2 separate regions of the Homo sapiens genome follow, and region 2 is linked to region 1. A link means that fine-mapping ties the variant in region 1 to the expression of a gene that starts in the linked region. Tissue or cell type: pancreas. Region 1 holds a variant in brackets; the other region holds the start of a gene. All regions are shown on one strand. Distances are from middle to middle.

Region 1 (8,101 bases):
AGGAGCTCCCAGCAGTGGCGGCGGCAGCCCACACGGCTGTTCGTGGTGGTCCTGGCCTCTGTCCTGGTGTTCCTCATCTGTTCCCTGCCTCTGAGCATCTACTGGTTTGTGCTCTACTGGTTGAGCCTGCCGCCCGAGATGCAGGTCCTGTGCTTCAGCTTGTCACGCCTCTCCTCGTCCGTAAGCAGCAGCGCCAACCCCGTCATCTACTTCCTGGTGGGCAGCCGGAGGAGCCACAGGCTGCCCACCAGGTCCCTGGGGACTGTGCTCCAACAGGCGCTTCGCGAGGAGCCCGAGCTGGAAGGTGGGGAGACGCCCACCGTGGGCACCAATGAGATGGGGGCTTGAGAGCCGCCCACAGGTGCTTCCCACCTGTGCGAGCCCATGCCCTGGAGATTCCCGAGCCGTGAGCTGCCTCCCACCTCGTCCCTGCCAAGTGTCTGGCCCGCCTTCTTGGGGGAGCCCCAAGGACTTTGCAGCTGCATGTGGGGGTCACTTCCCTGCATGTCAAAACTCCCCACAACACCTGTGTCCTGGATCTCACAATGCAACCCCGCTGGAAGATGCAATTTATTTGTTTATAGCAGATTATCTGGTTGGGGGAAAATATTAGCTTTTAGCCCTACCCTGCTTTAAGCTGGTTATCTATGGGTGGATAACAGGAATCTCATTTGAATATGAAAGCTTTCTCCCAACCACCTTCTCTGCCTAAGACGGCATCTTTGTGGAGGAGGCAGGTGACCTCGGGTGATCTTTGGCCCTATGCTGGTCCTTGGGTGGCATCAACTGGCCACCAAGGTGGTGCCCCCGTGCACCTTTCCCCAGGTGTGCCTGAAGTCTGGCAAGTAAACGGTGTCGCCATCGCCGACCCGGATCTCGCTGGCTGTGGGCCATGAGACTCTGCCCCACCATCCCTCTGACCCCTGGCCAGCCCTTGACCCCTGGCATTTGCTATGAGGTCGCCTTACCCTGTCACCCCTCGCACCCAGGGCAGGCCTGTTCGCTTTCCTCCAGGCCGCACTGGGAAGGGAAGAGCCTCTGCCTGGCTTCACTGGCAGTCACTCCAGCAGATGCTGATAGGACAGTGCCCCAGGCAGTGGAGGGCAGCCTTCCAGGCAGTGTCCCCCAGAGCCAGAGTCTCATACCTCACTGACTGTCCCTCCCAGGGCCCCCTCACTTTGCCCAAAAGCCCAAAGACGGAACATCTGGGACACACATCAGCTGGCTCCACTCTCCTCCCTCCCCCTTTCCTTCCCACAGTCCCCTGGGTCCAGAACAAGGCAGATGTTTCCTGCACTTTCCACAAATCACAGCCCTTTCCTACCACCCAGCATCCAGCCTCGAGGCTCGGGGCTTGCATGGAGGGGGTGCAAGACAGGAGGTCCCTGCAGAGTCAGTCCTGGACTTAAAGAGGTGAGGGAGGAGGAAAGACGGAAGTGGAAAGATCCTGTCTCCAGACCACAGCCTGGCCTGCAAGCCTGGCACCTGGCTGCGTCATCCTGTTTTTCATGTCAGAAGGTGAAAATGATCTTGTTCTTTCTCTTGGCATCTTTCTGAAGCAGTTTTCAGTCTCCTCCCAAAAGATGGAGCCTTCGAGCCAGCCAGGGCACAGGTCAGATCCTGAGACAGGAGAGGACAGCTCATCAGTAAGCTATAAAATACACCCCTGGAATCAACTCTCACAGCCTGCGGTTCTGTGCCGTGGCAGGTGATGGTGTCCTGGGGACTCGAAGACTGTGCCCTGGACAGGACTCCCCTTCCTGGGCTCCCCCTGTTTGTTCATTGCCCTGGGCTGGGGGCTGTGCAGCCCTCCCAGAAGGAGAAATTACCTCTGAGTGCTTTCCCACCTAGGGCTCAGGCCCCCAGGTCTGTGTGTCCCAGAGAAGCATGCGAGGCAGAGTGGTGGCTCTTTCTCAGTCGTTCCAGCATTTAGCGGAGCACTTGGTACCAGCACTGGCCTCAAATGCCAGATGCACTTAACAAGTGCTCATTTGGCCAGTAAGAGTAACTGATGCCTGTACAGTGCTTTACAGCCCACGTTTTGTCCAGGATCCAACCCATATCTTCTGACTACAAACCCCATGCTTCACAACCCTTCTCCAACCTGGGCAGCCACGAGGTGGCCCAGTCTAAAGCCGACGGTTGGTAGGAAGAACATCTCGCTTCTTAGCACTCAGTGGCTACCACAGGGCCCCTCATTTGCAAGGGGAGGAGCCCTAGAAATTGTTCACACAATGATGTTATGTTTCGATAAAACATATAAAATGATATATCTGTTAGACCTTCTACTCCGGTACCTCCATCACACTCCACTTTAGGTCAGGTGGCACTGGTGTGCCCACAGGTATTTGGGGGGTGGGGCTGAGTGGAAGAGGAGTTAGGGGGTCCCTGCAGTTTGGGCTTAGTGAGGTGCATTTATGTGGTTTCCGATCACTTCTGTGTGTGGTTAGGCAATTGCTAGCACCCCAGGGTAGGAATGGCTCCCAGAAACGTTGCCACTGCCTGCTGTGCCAGCTCCCCGGGCATCGTGCAAAGAGCTGCCTGAAAAAATGAACAGATAAAGGAAGTATGTGGGGGAGTGGGTAACAGAGAAGAAATAAGATTTGAAATGTACAGAATCAGAAGCTAGCTTATAGAAGAATCCTCCAATCCCCAGATGTACAACTCTAAATGGGGGGTTCTGTTCTCACGGGTGCCTGCTCAGAGCAGGTCTCACCTGTTAGCAAGATCCTTGCTAATGCAGCATGTGTAATCAGAACACATACCATACCTCTTTTCTCCTGGGAAATGTGAAAGTACCATTCATGAGACACCCTGTTTTTGTATCCAAAATGCTGGAGCAGGAATACAAATGGCAAAAACGTCTCTGTGTGAAGTTGCATGTTTTATGTATCCAGCTATCACTCACTTAAAATAAATCCAATCAATGAGGAAAAACACAATTATCTTTCTCTTTTCTCCATAGAAAGTGTACAAAATTGATCTATGAAGAGGCAAGCAACAGTATGCAGCCAAAAATGTAGGACAAATATTAGAAAGGTTTGTTAAGCAGCTAATTATTAAAAATATTATAGGGCTTTTAATATTTTATGAAGTTTGTGTTACCTGCTCTTGCTTAAAAAACAATGTTTGATTTACTTTCTCATTCTAAATAAGTATTCATTTTCATACCTAATTTTGTATTTGTAACTTTCCTTCCTTCTTTTCTTCCCCCTTAAAAAGGGCCCCAAATCCTGTAGAAATTTTAGGTTCCATAAACCCTGGATCCAACCAGGAGCAGCGAGCCCTCTGGCCACACTAGAGCGCTGGAGATTTCCGTGTGAATAACCATAAAATTCCAGTAGCATAGTCCACACTGTCTGACAGCTCAATCCTTTGCTGAAACAAGTTTTCTTGTTGAGCCCCCGATTTCCCCAATCCCATCCCAAGGTTCAGCCCTGTGGGGTCCCAGGTGGGAACCAGATGCGGAGGGAGGATGAGGGTCCTCCCACCACTCACTGATGGGGACAGGGCCTGGCTCTGGGAGTGAGGAGACGGGGGCTCCCCTCTGCCTTCTGGGTTCCCTCAGGCCAGGTATTCCCCCCTGTGGCCTCTTCTTCCCCAGCTGTGTAATGGGAACAATCAACCTCACCCTGCACTCCCCCTGAGGCCCCTGCGGGCTGCCGCAGGAAACTGGATCAAGAACACATGTTCTAAACAATCAAAAGTGATTCCAGAAAGGAATTCCTGACAAGAACAGCTTGATCAGGCCAACAAACACAGCTTGGTTTGGTTTGGAAATAGGTGGCTTCCAGATTGCTTGTTTAATAGAGATGAACAAAGCATACATAAATGCTGCAGACCACAGCGTCAGGAGGCAAACAGTACCAAGTTCTTTATTTTCTATCATGGTACTTTCCTTTCTCTGGAGCCCCCAGTAGGACTCTTGGCAGAGACTTGGGTGCAGTCAGTTCAGGAAGGGCCCAGTCAACTCCAGGCTCCCCACTCCCCATCCCAGGAGTTGCCTCTCAGTCGTGGCCTCCCACGGACTGGACATTGTCTCCTCCATCCTTGTCGTTATCTACTTCCTGTGGCAGCCATTATCAGGTCACCTGATTTTTGTTCCCAGAGTCCCAAATTTATCTGCAACTTCCATCACCTCCACTGGCTAATTGCTGTAATAAAGCGTTCTCAAATCTCATGGTGCAGCATAATGAAAGTTTTCTTGCTTATACCATAGACCAATGCAGGTGGATGGGAGGCTCTGCTCTACTCTGTCACTCAGAGACCCAGGCTTCTGATGATGTAGGACAGGTGAGCCCCCAAACTGGGGCTCAGCCAGGAGAGTTCTTGGCTTTGCCCAGGAAAGAATTCAAGGTGAGCCAGTGGTGCCGGGCACGGTGGCTCACGCCTGTAATCCCAGCACTTTGGGAGGCCGAGGCGGGTGGATCACCTAAGGTCGGGAGTTCGAGACCAGCCTGACCAACATGGTGAAACCCTGTCTCTACGAAAAATGCAAAATTAGCCGGGCATGGTAGTGCATGCCTGTAATCCCAGCTACTTGGGAGGTTGAGGCAGGAGAATCGCTTGAACCCGGGAGGCGGAGGTTGCGGTGAGCCGAGATCAGGCCATTGCACTGCACTCCAGCCTGGGCAAAAAGAGCAAAACTCCATCTCAAAAAAAAAAAAAAAGGTGAGCCAGTG[G/T]TGTTAAGACAGCAACTTTCATTGAAGTGGCAGAGGTACTGCTCCTTGCAAAGCACACTACCCCATAGGCAGTGTGTCCAGATCAGCAGCTCAGAGGCTGTGCTGCACTCATATTTACACCCACTTTTTAAAAAAAAATTTTTTTTTGAGATAGATCTTGCTCTGTTGCCCAGGCTGGAGTGCAGTGGTGCAATCTCAACTCACTGCAACTTCTGCCTCCCAAGGTCAGGTATCCTCCTCACTAAGTCTCCATAGTAGCTGGGATTACAGCTGCACACCATCACGCCCAGCTAATTTTTATATTTTTTATAGAAAGGAGGTCTCACTATGTTGCCCAGGCTGATCTTGAACTCCTGGGCTTAAGCAATCCACCTGTCTCAGCCTCCCACAGTGCTGAGATTACAAGTGTGAGCCACCACACCTGGCCTATACCCACTTTCAATTATATGCAAGTTAAGGGGTAGATTATGCAGAAATTTCTAGAAATAAGGTGGTAACTTCTAGGTTATCAGATCCTGGTCATGGAAAAGGGGCGGTAACTTCCAGGTGTTGCCATGGCAATGGCAAACTGACATGGCACTGGTGGGTGTGTCTTAAGGTCAGGTGCTTTCCCCTCTTCCCTGTCTTCAATCTGGCCAAAAGTCTTCCAATCTGGCCAAAAGTTCAAACCCTGCCTCTGGAGTCGTGGTCCACCTCCTACCTCACTTCTACCTTATGGCTCTGCCCTCTGCCAGATCCTCATGGCCTCTCATTCAGCCAGAGGATGGGAGGAGAAAAGAGGAGAGGTCAAACATGGCAGGCCTCTACCATGAAGCATTCCACTGGCTGGAGTTCAGTCATGTGACCCATACCACAGAGGAGTCTGGGAAATGTAGTCCAGCTGAGAGGTGACAGCGTGCTGGCAGTCATCACAGCCCTCGCTCGCTCTCGGCGCCTCCTCTGCCTGGGCTCCCACTTTGGCGGCACTAGAGGAGCCCTTCAGCCCACCACTGCACTGTGGGAGCCCCTTTCTGGGCTGGCCAAGGCTGGAGCCGGCTCCCTCAGATTGCAGGGAGGTGTGGAGGGAGAGGCGCGAGCAAGAACCGGGGCTGGGCACGGCGCTTGCGGGCCAGCTGGAGTTCCAGGTGCGAGTGGGCTTGGCGGGCCCCGCACTCGGAGCAGCTGGCCGGCCCCAGGCAATGAGGGGCTTAGCACCCAGGCCAGCGGCTGCGGAGGGTGTACTGGGTCCCCCAGCAGTGCTATCCCACTGGTGCTGCGCTCAATTTCTCGCTGGGCCTAGCTCAGGGATTGTAAACGCACCAATCAGTGCCCTGTCAAAACAGACCACTTGGCTCTACCAATCAGCAGGATGTGGGTGGTGCCAGATAGGAGAATAAAAGCAGGCTGCCGGAGCCAGCAGTGTCAATCCGCTCAGGTCCCCTTCCACACTGTGGAAGCTTTGTTCCTTCGCTCTTTGCAATACATCTTGCTACTGCTCACTCTTTGGGTCCACACTGCCTTTATGAGCTGTAACACTCACTGCGAAGGTCTGCAGCTTCACTCCTGAAGCCAGTGAGACCACGAACCCACTGGGAGGAACGAACAACTCCAGACATGCCGCCTTCAGAGCTGTAACACTCACCGCGAAGGTCCGCAGCTTCACTCCTGAGCCAGTGAGACCACGAACCCACCAGAAGGAAGAAACTCTGAACACATCCGAACATCAGAAGGAACAAACTCCAGACGCACCACCTTAAGAGCTGTAACGCTCACCGCAAGGGTCCACGGCTTCATTCTTGGAGTCAGTGAGACCAAGAACCCACCAATTCCAGACACACAGCCATGCACTCTGGTGGGCCAGGAGAGGTGATATAGGCAAGTTCTCACTGTCTCAACCAGAGCAGCTCCTGCCTTGTTTGCAAGAAAGGAAAGAAAGGGGCAGAAAAGGACTGCAGGAAAAGCAAGGCACAATCAATACGCCAAAGCATTGCCCCACGATGCAAATTCATGCTGTTTTCTTTTTCCCTAACTCTTCATGTTGCCATTTGTGATACTGTCTAGGAACTGATGCTCTGAAATTAACAGGATGTTAACATAACTTATTCATGCACTGAATAAACATTTCTCAGACCCCTATTATGTGCCTGTCTCTGTTGTGGACCCCAGGTGAATGTCTGAGCTTTTACTTTCTGTCCAGTCTTTGGGGCACACTGGCCAGTTGTCACGACCTGAGGCCTCCTCTCCCTCATCCGTGCACATGAGACAGAACATCATGGTCTGATTTAACCTTCAGGTCACTCCCTGAGGTAGGTGGGAACATTGTCTCCCTTAGATAGTGACAGCTGCCAAGTGGCAGAACCAGCCCTGGAATCAAATTCCTCTGGCCGCTCCTTGACTGTTGGCTCCAGCTCCTTCTGATTGAAGCGACCTTTGCAAAAATTATAACTGTGGAAATTATGACAGTGAAAGAAATCAGACCTAACCAACTCTGTCTTGCTTCGAACCTTTTAGCTGTCCTGTTCATTCCTGGGCATAGGCCCAACTAACTTTGGGAAGGAATTCAGTTCATGGTTTGACTCTGAAACAAAATTGATAACAGCCCTTTCCCAAAAAGACCCCCTTCTTGCCTGGGGACCAGTCTGCCTTTGCAGGACTAACAAATTAGCTACAAGATTAGAAATTACAGTTTAGGGGTCATGCAGTCTCTGGCTCCAAGAGTCTGAACCTCCCCAAATTGCTCCTGAGGATAATATCACTATTGTAAAACCTAAGATCAGTGCTTGAGATATTTTGCAGACCTTGCACTCGATGGACCAGTTGACACCACTCAGACCGGTAGTCTTGTTCAACCAGTTCTGCCATCCCACCCAGGAACAAAAGACGGCAAGAAAAACTTACTTTGATCCCCTGTGATTCCATCTCCAGCCTGACCAATCAGCACTCCCCACTTCCCAAGCCCCTACCCACCAAATGATCTTTAAAAACTCTGATCCCCAAATGCTCAGAGAGACTGATTTGAGAATTATTAAAACTCCAGTCTCCTGCACAGCCAGCTCTGCATGAATTACTCTTTCTCCATTGCAATTCCCGTCTTGATAAATGGGCTCTGTCTAAATGGGCTCTTGTCTAAATGGGCAAGGTGAACCCATTGGGCAGTTAGACTTCTACCATCTCAGGCTGAGAGGGTCAATAATAGGTGTCCACTATATGCTTGGCATGCGGCACAGCACAAGTGTGTCTCAGAGGAGGCATTAAAGTAAAGCCATCCAGCACATTCAACAGGTCATTGCTGCTGCTTTTTTTTATTTTTATTTTTATTTTTATTTTTATTTTTGAGATGGAGTCTTGCTCTGTCGCCCAGGCTGGAGTGCAGTGGAGCAATCTCGGCTCACTGCAGCCTCCACCTCCTGGGTTAAAGTGATTCTCCTGCCTCAGCCTCC
Region 2 (8,101 bases), 73 kb after region 1:
CCAGCCAGTATTCCAGTAATTGTTGGGCTAAAGTCTACGAAATCAAAATATGAAATTTAAAACTCCGTCACCACCAAAACAAGGCAGAGACACTTCCATAGTAAAAAGTACAGCCCTGGCAACGCTGCTTCCTCCAGGCTTCCAAGGCTGTGGTTGTCTAACACAAGCATCCCAGGCGTGTGGTTAAGAAGCTTCTTCTAACTGTCCCTCCTTTCCAACCAGGCTGGCACAAGTTTAGCCAAAGCATGCTTGGCACAAGAAAGGGTTGGGAATACAGAAGTACACATCCTGCATGTTTACCAGCTGGACCAAGGCTGCCCATTACATAGAAACATAAAGAGAGTCACATGTAGTTTTTCTTTTGTTTTTGTCTGTTTTGAGAGAGGGTCTCACTTTGCCCCCAAGCTAGAGTGCAGTGGCGTGATTTCAGCTCACTGCAGCCTCAACCTCCCAGGTTCAAGCGATCCTCCTGCCTCAGCCCATCAAGTAGCAGGAACTACAGGCACACACCACCACATCTGGCTAATTTTTCTATTTTTTTGCAGAGATGGGGTTTTGCCACGTTGCCCAGGCTGGTCTCGAACTCCTGAGATCAAGTGATCCACCCACCTCGGCCTCCCAAAGTGCTAGGATTACAGGCACCCAGTCACGTGTAGTTTTAAGTTTTCTAGTAGCCATATTAAGAAATTTAAAAGAGGCTGGGTGCACTGGCTCACACCTGTAATCCCAGCACTTTGGGAGGCCAAAGCAGGCGGATCACCTGAAGTTGGGAGTTCGAGACCAGCCTGAACAACATGGAGAAACCCCGTCTCTACTAAAAATACAAAATTAGCCAGGCACGGTGGCGCATGCCTCTAATCCCAGCTACTCGGGAGGCTGAGGCAGGAGAATCACTTGAACCCCGGAGGCGGAGGTTGCAGTGAGCCGAGATCATGCCACTGCACTCCAGACTGGGCAATAAGAGCGAAACTCTGTCTCAAAAAAAAAAAAAAAAAAAGAAAAGAAATGGGTAAATTATTTTAATAAGATATTTTTTATTTAACCCAATATATGAAAAATATTATTTCAACATGTAATCAGTATTCAGAAAAATTACTCAAGATATTCCCAATTGTTTTTTTAACATAATCTTCCAAATTTGGTGTGTATTCTGTATCTGCGGCAATTACAAGCCACACTTCAAACATTTGATGACCACGCATGGCTAATGGCTACCATTTTGGACAACGCTGATCTAGACAACTAAAACCCACATCAATTGTTGGACTTCTGATTAAGAGTTCTTCATTGCAACGCTTTATTCTCCAACTGGTCATTTTAATCCAGTCTTTACGAGGGTACAAGTCACGGTCTGAATGCCAGTAAATTTCAATGTCTGTCTAGGTCAATACGCACACACCAGAAGTAAAGCTGTTACTGGGAAGAGCTGCCGCGGACCCGTATCGCCTGGGCTCAAAGGTGACCAGCAGCCGTCCGTACAGCCCAGTGCGCTGGCTGGATACCTGCAGCTTCAGCAAACACACGCCTCGGCTCTGGAGCTCTTTCAGAGAGATGTTCTCCTGCCAGGACCTGGAAGACACCCGGTATTGATGCTTCAGGATTTTTACTAGTTTCTACTTCCACCCACCCAGGAAAAGTAAAAGAGAAAGAAACATAGATAAAGATCTACTCACAGGCACTAAATATGTCCCAATGGAACTCCGAATTGGCTCCACTCCCAATCCCGCTCCTCCTACATCCCCCTAGGGCAGTTAATGCCACAACCCTTCTCTCAGTTACCTGAGACAGATCTTTCAATCAGCATTCCCCTCTCTCCTCCCATCTGTCACTAAGTCCTATCAGGCCCCTCCCATTTCTACCTGGACTTCTCTGCCTCTCATCCTGGCTGCCACAGCCCCGGTTCAAATCCACATCACTGCTCACCTGGACTAAACAGAGCCTCTCAACTACCTTACCTCTGGCCTCTCCACGTCCAATCAAAAGCAGGAGACCCAAGAAATCCTCCTAAAATGCAAAGCTATTCGCCTCCCTCACCTGCTTAACCCCGCTGATGGCCCATCCTTCATACACAGAACAGAAGACTAGCTCCTTAGCCAGGCCCTTCCCAGGCTCGCCCTGCCAGTCTGCTCAGCATCCTCAGAAAGAGCCACTGCCATGGGGGCTGACTCTGTCCTTGGCACCACGCTGAGCACCTGACTGACAGGGGATCGTTTCATTCTCAGAGCAAGCCTGTGAGGTGGGAATCATCCCAGTTTTACAGATGAAGTAAGTAAGGCTCAGAGACAGAACCTGCAAAGTCACACAGCCATAAATGAAACAGCTGGGATTCTAAGAAACTCAACATAACTGCAAAAGCTCTCCATTGCCATGATCAAAAGCATCTCAGACAAATCCTACCCACATATGGCTGACTGCAAACTCTGGAAGCAGACTGCCTGACAGCAAATCGGGCTACACTGTGTCACCCCGGGGCAAGTTACTTAACCCCTCTCTGTCTCCATCTCCTTAGACGGAAAATGACAGTAACAGAAACCTACACTGCGGCCGGGCACGGTGGCTCACGCCTGTAATCCCAACACTTTGGGAGGCCAAGGCGGGCAGACCACGAGGTCAGGAGATCGAGACCATCCTGGCCAACATGGTGAAACCCTGTCTCTACTAAAAATACAAAAAATTAGCAGGACGTGGTGGCGCGCCTGTAGTCCCAGCCACTCAGGAGGCTGAGGCAGGAGAATCGCTTGAACCCGGGAGATGGAAGCTGCAGTAAGCCGAGATCGTGCCACTGCACTCCAGCCTGGGCGACAGAGAGAGACTCTGTCTAAAAAAAAAAAAAAGAAAAAGAAAAAAAAGAAACTTACACTGTAGGGTTGGCATGGGATGAGGTGTAAAAGAATTAACGCATGGAAAGTACGTAAGTGTTAGCTCTGATTGTTTTGGACAAGTAAATAGTCCCATTCGGAAACAAGCCCGGCTCTCACATGGCTCCCCACACCTCTCAGGACGGCTCCCCACCCTACTCCGCACCCACCAGCTTAACTCCAATTTTCCTTCAGGCACCACTCCCTCCTTGAAGCCACCATGACCCTCCCCAGGGAAGGGCCTTCCTCCTCCAGGCTCTTTCCCCGCGACACGCACGCAGCCGGCCCTGGACGCACTGGAGGGGAAGGGACTCTCTGCTTATGCCCAGCCCGCCGCTGGCCGGATCGGGGGCAGCCAGTGCACCTGACTCATGCTGCCGGGGCCTGACTGAGAATGGGCGCAAACCATGTTTACTGAATGAATAAGGGAAAGGGCTGCTAACTCGCTGCGGGTGGAACTGGGGTCGGGGCCAGGGCCCAGGAGTGTAAGCTTAGTGGGGGGTCTCGGGTCGGGAAATCAAAGTGCTTCTTAAGGGTCCCCAAACGGAACGCGCTGCCCAGGAAGTGATGAGACTGACAACTCGGGAGGTGGCCAAGCAGGGGACGGACGATCCCTGCCCCTGACTCGAAGGGTCGGAGACGAAATTCCCGCCCCAGACTATGAGGCCGAGCCCCTCGGAGACTCTGCCCGGGACACGGCGGGACCGACCGCGAGGGAGCGGCGCCGGCGGCCTCCCGTACCTGCGCTCCTCCACCTCCGCGTCTCTCTCAAGCTCCAGCAGGTCCAGTTGCTTGGTCACGAAGCTCTCCACAGCTGCCGAGGCCATCGCCGCCGCCGGCCTGGGCCCCTAGAAGCCGACGTCCCGCTTCTGCGCCGGGCCGGTGTTACAGCGGACCGGTGTTCCCCGCCGGGCCCGTGCGTTACGCACGCGGTTCGCGTCGTTTCCGTTTCCGGCCGAGGCTGCGGCCATGGCAGCATCTTCCCTGACGGTCACCTTAGGGCGGCTGGCGTCCGCGTGCAGCCACAGCATCCTGAGACCTTCGGGGCCCGGAGCAGGTGAGACCTGGGATATGGGAGGAAGGGAGGACGCAGAGCGAGCGCTGCTCCCTGCGGTCTCGCCACGTATGTGCCTGGGTCCGACCTGGTGCCTTGTGTGTTGATCGCATTTGTGGTGAATATAGCACGGGTTTTGGAGTCGGGGGAACCCAGGTTCAGATTTTGATTCCTTCAGTTAGTAGCCTGAATACTGACAATAGCCCTTGAACTTTGGTATAGGCCCTATGTTATGGGGGAGAAGAGTGAGGCTCAGAGGAGCTAGGTAACGTGCCCAGGGTCACACAGCGGGGAAGTGGAAGAAGAGTACTTCAGGCGCAGTCATTTCGGCTCCAAAGCCTGTGCTTGAACCACTGCCCCCAGGCTGCGAGCTGGTCTGAAAAATGGTGATGGATATCCTCGCCTAATCTGAACTCATTCTGCAAAAGAAACAGCCGTATTTAAGGCGCTGGGCTGATACGAGGCTCCAAAAAGGTTATGTCCGTTAAAAACTCTATAAATCTCTGCTTGAAAATGGTTGGAGTGTGTATTTGTGTGCATGAGTGTTTATGTATGTTTTAAACCTGGGTTTCATGTCTCACCATGACCCCCAAAAATGGAAAACTGGATCTAACTCTATATTGGACGATATTAAAAGAATAGTACCATAATTCCCAAAACTTGGAAGCAACCCAGATGTCCTTCAGGAGATGAATGGTTACATAAACTGTAGGACATCCATACAGTAGAATATTATGCAGCAATAAAAAGAAATGAGTCATGAAGAGACATGGAGGAAACTTACATACATGTTACTAAGTAAAAGAAGCCAACCTGAAAAGGGGACATCTTGTATGTTTCCCACTATGACATTCTGGAAAAGGCAAATCTAAGGAGACAGTAAAAAGTTACATGGGGGGTAAGAGGATTGGGGGAGAAAAGGATAAATAGGTGGAGCTCAGAGGATTTTTAGGGCAGTGAAACTATTCTGTATGATATAATGGTAGATACATGTCATTATAAGTTTGTCCAAATCCATAGAATGTACACTACCAAGGGTGAACCCCTAATGTAGACTATGGACTTTGGATAACAATGATGTGTCAATGTAGGTTCATCAATTGTAAAGATTGTACCACTCTGGTGAGGGATGTTGATAGGAAGCTGTGGGCACATGGACAGGGGACATATGGGAACTCTCTGTACCTTCCACTCAATTTTGGTGTGAAACTAAAACTGTGCTAAAAAATAAAGTCTATTAAGAAATTAATAATAATCACAGAGTTGGGCCAGAGGCAATGTAGATGCCAAAATTGGCCATGAGTTGGTAACTGTTGAACCTGGAAAGGGATAATTGAGAGAGTTCACTATTCTGTTCTCTTTACTTTTGTATGCTTGACATTTTCCATAATAAAACTTAGGTTTAAGTAGGCAGGAAAGTTTTTACAAAAGCAGTGGGACTTACTCCATTCTACCTACCTACATGAAACCACCCCTCCAATGCTATGTTCAAGTACAGACTCACGCATTAGGAGAGAAAGACACACAGTGAAGCGAGTAGAGACAAGGTGACCAAAACAGTGAGCAGCTGGGGCCTTGAAGAGTGAGCAAAGGAGACGTGATGGAAGTACACAGTCACAGTCTCTAGGACTACCTAAAGGAAATCCTGTGGGAGAGGAAGGAGACTGTTTGTTCCCTGGGGACCCAAAAACAAAGCTAGAAGCAAATTAGGTACAGAAGCCTGCTAAGTTTTTAATAGTGGGATGGATTTGCCAATGGGTTGACTGAGTAGTGTGCGAGAGAAGAGTCAAAACTGATGGAGGTTTGGGGCCTGAGCAACTGGGAGGATGAAGTTGCCCTCATGTGAGAGGGAGGAGTGTGGGAGAAGCAGGCATGGGAAGAAATGAGGAGCCTCTGGAGGTGTGAGGTGCTCGTCAGACACGAGTGGCTAAGGCAGATAGATAGGTGGGTATGCAAAACCAGGAGAGAAGCCCTGGCTGGAGGTGTAAACTTGGGAGTCACCAGCACATTGGGGGTGTTTAAATCCATCGGACTGGATGCAGTCACCAGAGGAATGGCCATGGGCGGAGAGGAGGTCAAGGCCAAGGGTTGAGCCCCGGATGCCCAAATGGGAGAGGAGAGGAGAAAGCAGCCGAGGAGATGCAAATGGGGAGCTGGTGCTAATGGGTGAACTTTAAAAAGGTGGTTTTTATGGTGTGTAAATTATAGCTGAGTTTCTTTAAAAGTGGTTATTGAGAAACTGTTCTCTGCTTTTTACACCTAAGCACTTATTTTGATCCCCTGTCTTCTCAGTAGATTGAATGTCTTTGTTTCCTGGTGTATTCCTGGTGTATGCGTTATCTACGGTTACATCAGAAATTACCCCAAAACTTAGCAGCTTAAAACATTTATTAACTCACACCAGTTCTGAGAGCCAGGAACACAGAAGCAGCTTAAGTGGCTGGTTCTGGCTCAGGGTCTTAGCTTGCAGCAAGCAAGTCTGCAGGGGCTGTAGTTATCTCAAGACTCCACTGCGCCAGCGGCTGGAGAATCTACCTGCAAGGTCGTTCCCATGGGTGTTGGCGATAGGCCTAGTTCCCCGCCATGTGGACCTCTAGGTAGGGCTGCTCACAGCAGGGCAGCCCTAAGGCCAGAGATCAGAAAGGGTGAGCACAGGCATCCAAGATGGAAGTCCCAGTTGGTTATCACCTCATCCCAGAAGCCACGTGCTAGCATGTCTGTCACTAGCTGTTGGACACACAGGCCACTCCCAGGGGGCTAACAGGGGTAAGAATAGCAGGAGGCGGGGCCCAGCAGGGCCATCTTGGAGGCTGCTCCCACGCTTGGGCACAGATCAGAGTCTGAACCTACCAGGCACTTAGTCAAGGCATGAGTTAGTGGACGGGTGGTTCTGGTCTCAGGCGCTTGTAGATGATGTGGCTAACTGATCTCAACACATATAACCAGTAGCTGTAAGTGACGTTCTTGTAGTTTTGCTCACCTAGGTGTTTCTGTGGGCAGGCTGTCATGCAGTGGTTCATACCATGTACCAGGAGCAGCAGCTGTGCATTTAGCATCATAAAGGGCAGTTTGCATTTGTAGTATTAATGGTAATGATCTGTGTTTCTCTTCTTCCCTCAGCCTCCCTTTGGTCTGCTTCTCGAAGGTTCAATTCACAGAGCACTTCATATCTACCAGGGTAATATCAAAATGTGGGTTTTGGTGCCTCTTTTCCTTTCATTTGTAGAACCATCTTTCTAAAGTCAAAACTTCCTACCTTTTGGTTCTCAATAATATTTAAATTTCCTCTTTTGTTTTTAAGAGACAGAGTTTCACTATGTTTCCCAGACTGGTTTTGAACTCCTGGCCTAAAGTGGTCCTCCCGCCTCAGCCTCCTGAGTAGCTGGGATTACAGGCATGCACCACCACTTTCAGCTTTAACTTTTTTGACGGTATTTTTCTGAGACCCTTAAAAGAAGACGTAACTGCAAGAGACCAAAGAGAAATTCTGTATGTGTTTGCTCTCTTTTATTATGGAGGAGCTTGAAGTCTTAACTCAAGATTTCTGATGAGGAAGTTTGTATCAGAGTCTCTAAGAGAAACTCATTATTTGAAAAAGCACATTCAGTGTTAAAATTTTATACTTGAGAAAACATTTTTAGGTATCATAAACTGCAGAAAACATTCGACAAAGTTCCACTCACTGGTGGGAGACACAGGAGCAGTGCAGGGATAGCAGTTACTGTAGGGACCCCCCCGGGGTGCAGTTCCGGCTGCCCCTCACAGCCTGGGACGCCAGGCTTCTGCAAGATGGAAGTAATGTTCATTTCTATCTGCATGGGTGTTGGAGAGGATTAAGTAAATGTATACATTTAAAGCTCTTAGAACAGTGCCTGGCATACAGTCAGCACTCACAAAACATTGGCTGCTGGAACTGCTGCTGGGACTCCAGGGATCCTCTGCAGTGGGGAGATGTGGGAGTCTTTCTTGCTTCTCAAAGAAGCGGCAAAACATTCTGAGCATAGGAAGAAGTTGTAAGTGAGCATGTGGGTAGGTTGTGCCTACTACCCCTGTGTCCTGTGTGAGAGGTTAGCACCTTCCTGCCAGCGTGTTCTTCTCACACTGGGCACTGCTGAACCCGTATGGGGAGACTAGACATCAAACAGGTCAAAGACGTTTTGTAGAGAGCAGCACCTTCCTTGTCCTCCTT

The links. PIP is the estimated chance that this variant, and not a neighbour inherited with it, causes the effect.
Region 2: IGHMBP2 starts here. The variant in region 1 is fine-mapped to the expression of IGHMBP2 in pancreas (GTEx, PIP above 0.99). The same link has a PIP of 0.9 or more in ileum.

What each region holds. Positions count from the first base shown.
Region 1 is chr11:68,972,268-68,980,368 of GRCh38, reverse strand. MRGPRD (MAS related GPR family member D) reads left to right here. Exons shown (of 1, transcript NM_198923.2): 1 at 1-348. The coding sequence ends at 348. Among named protein-coding and RNA genes, the nearest start is that of MRGPRD, 4.7 kb to the left of the region's middle. RefSeq lists an enhancer at 1-403. The variant G/T (reference allele first, on the strand shown) is at 4,683.
Region 2 is chr11:68,899,537-68,907,637 of GRCh38, reverse strand. It overlaps IGHMBP2 (immunoglobulin mu DNA binding protein 2), which reads right to left and starts at 3,747. Exons shown (of 15, transcript NM_002180.3): 1 at 3,600-3,747; 2 at 1,400-1,569. The coding sequence starts at 3,685. It overlaps MRPL21 (mitochondrial ribosomal protein L21), which reads left to right and starts at 3,806. Exons shown (of 7, transcript NM_181514.2): 1 at 3,806-3,915; 2 at 7,033-7,090. The coding sequence starts at 3,828. RefSeq lists enhancers at 3,265-3,324, 3,655-3,774, 3,206-3,933.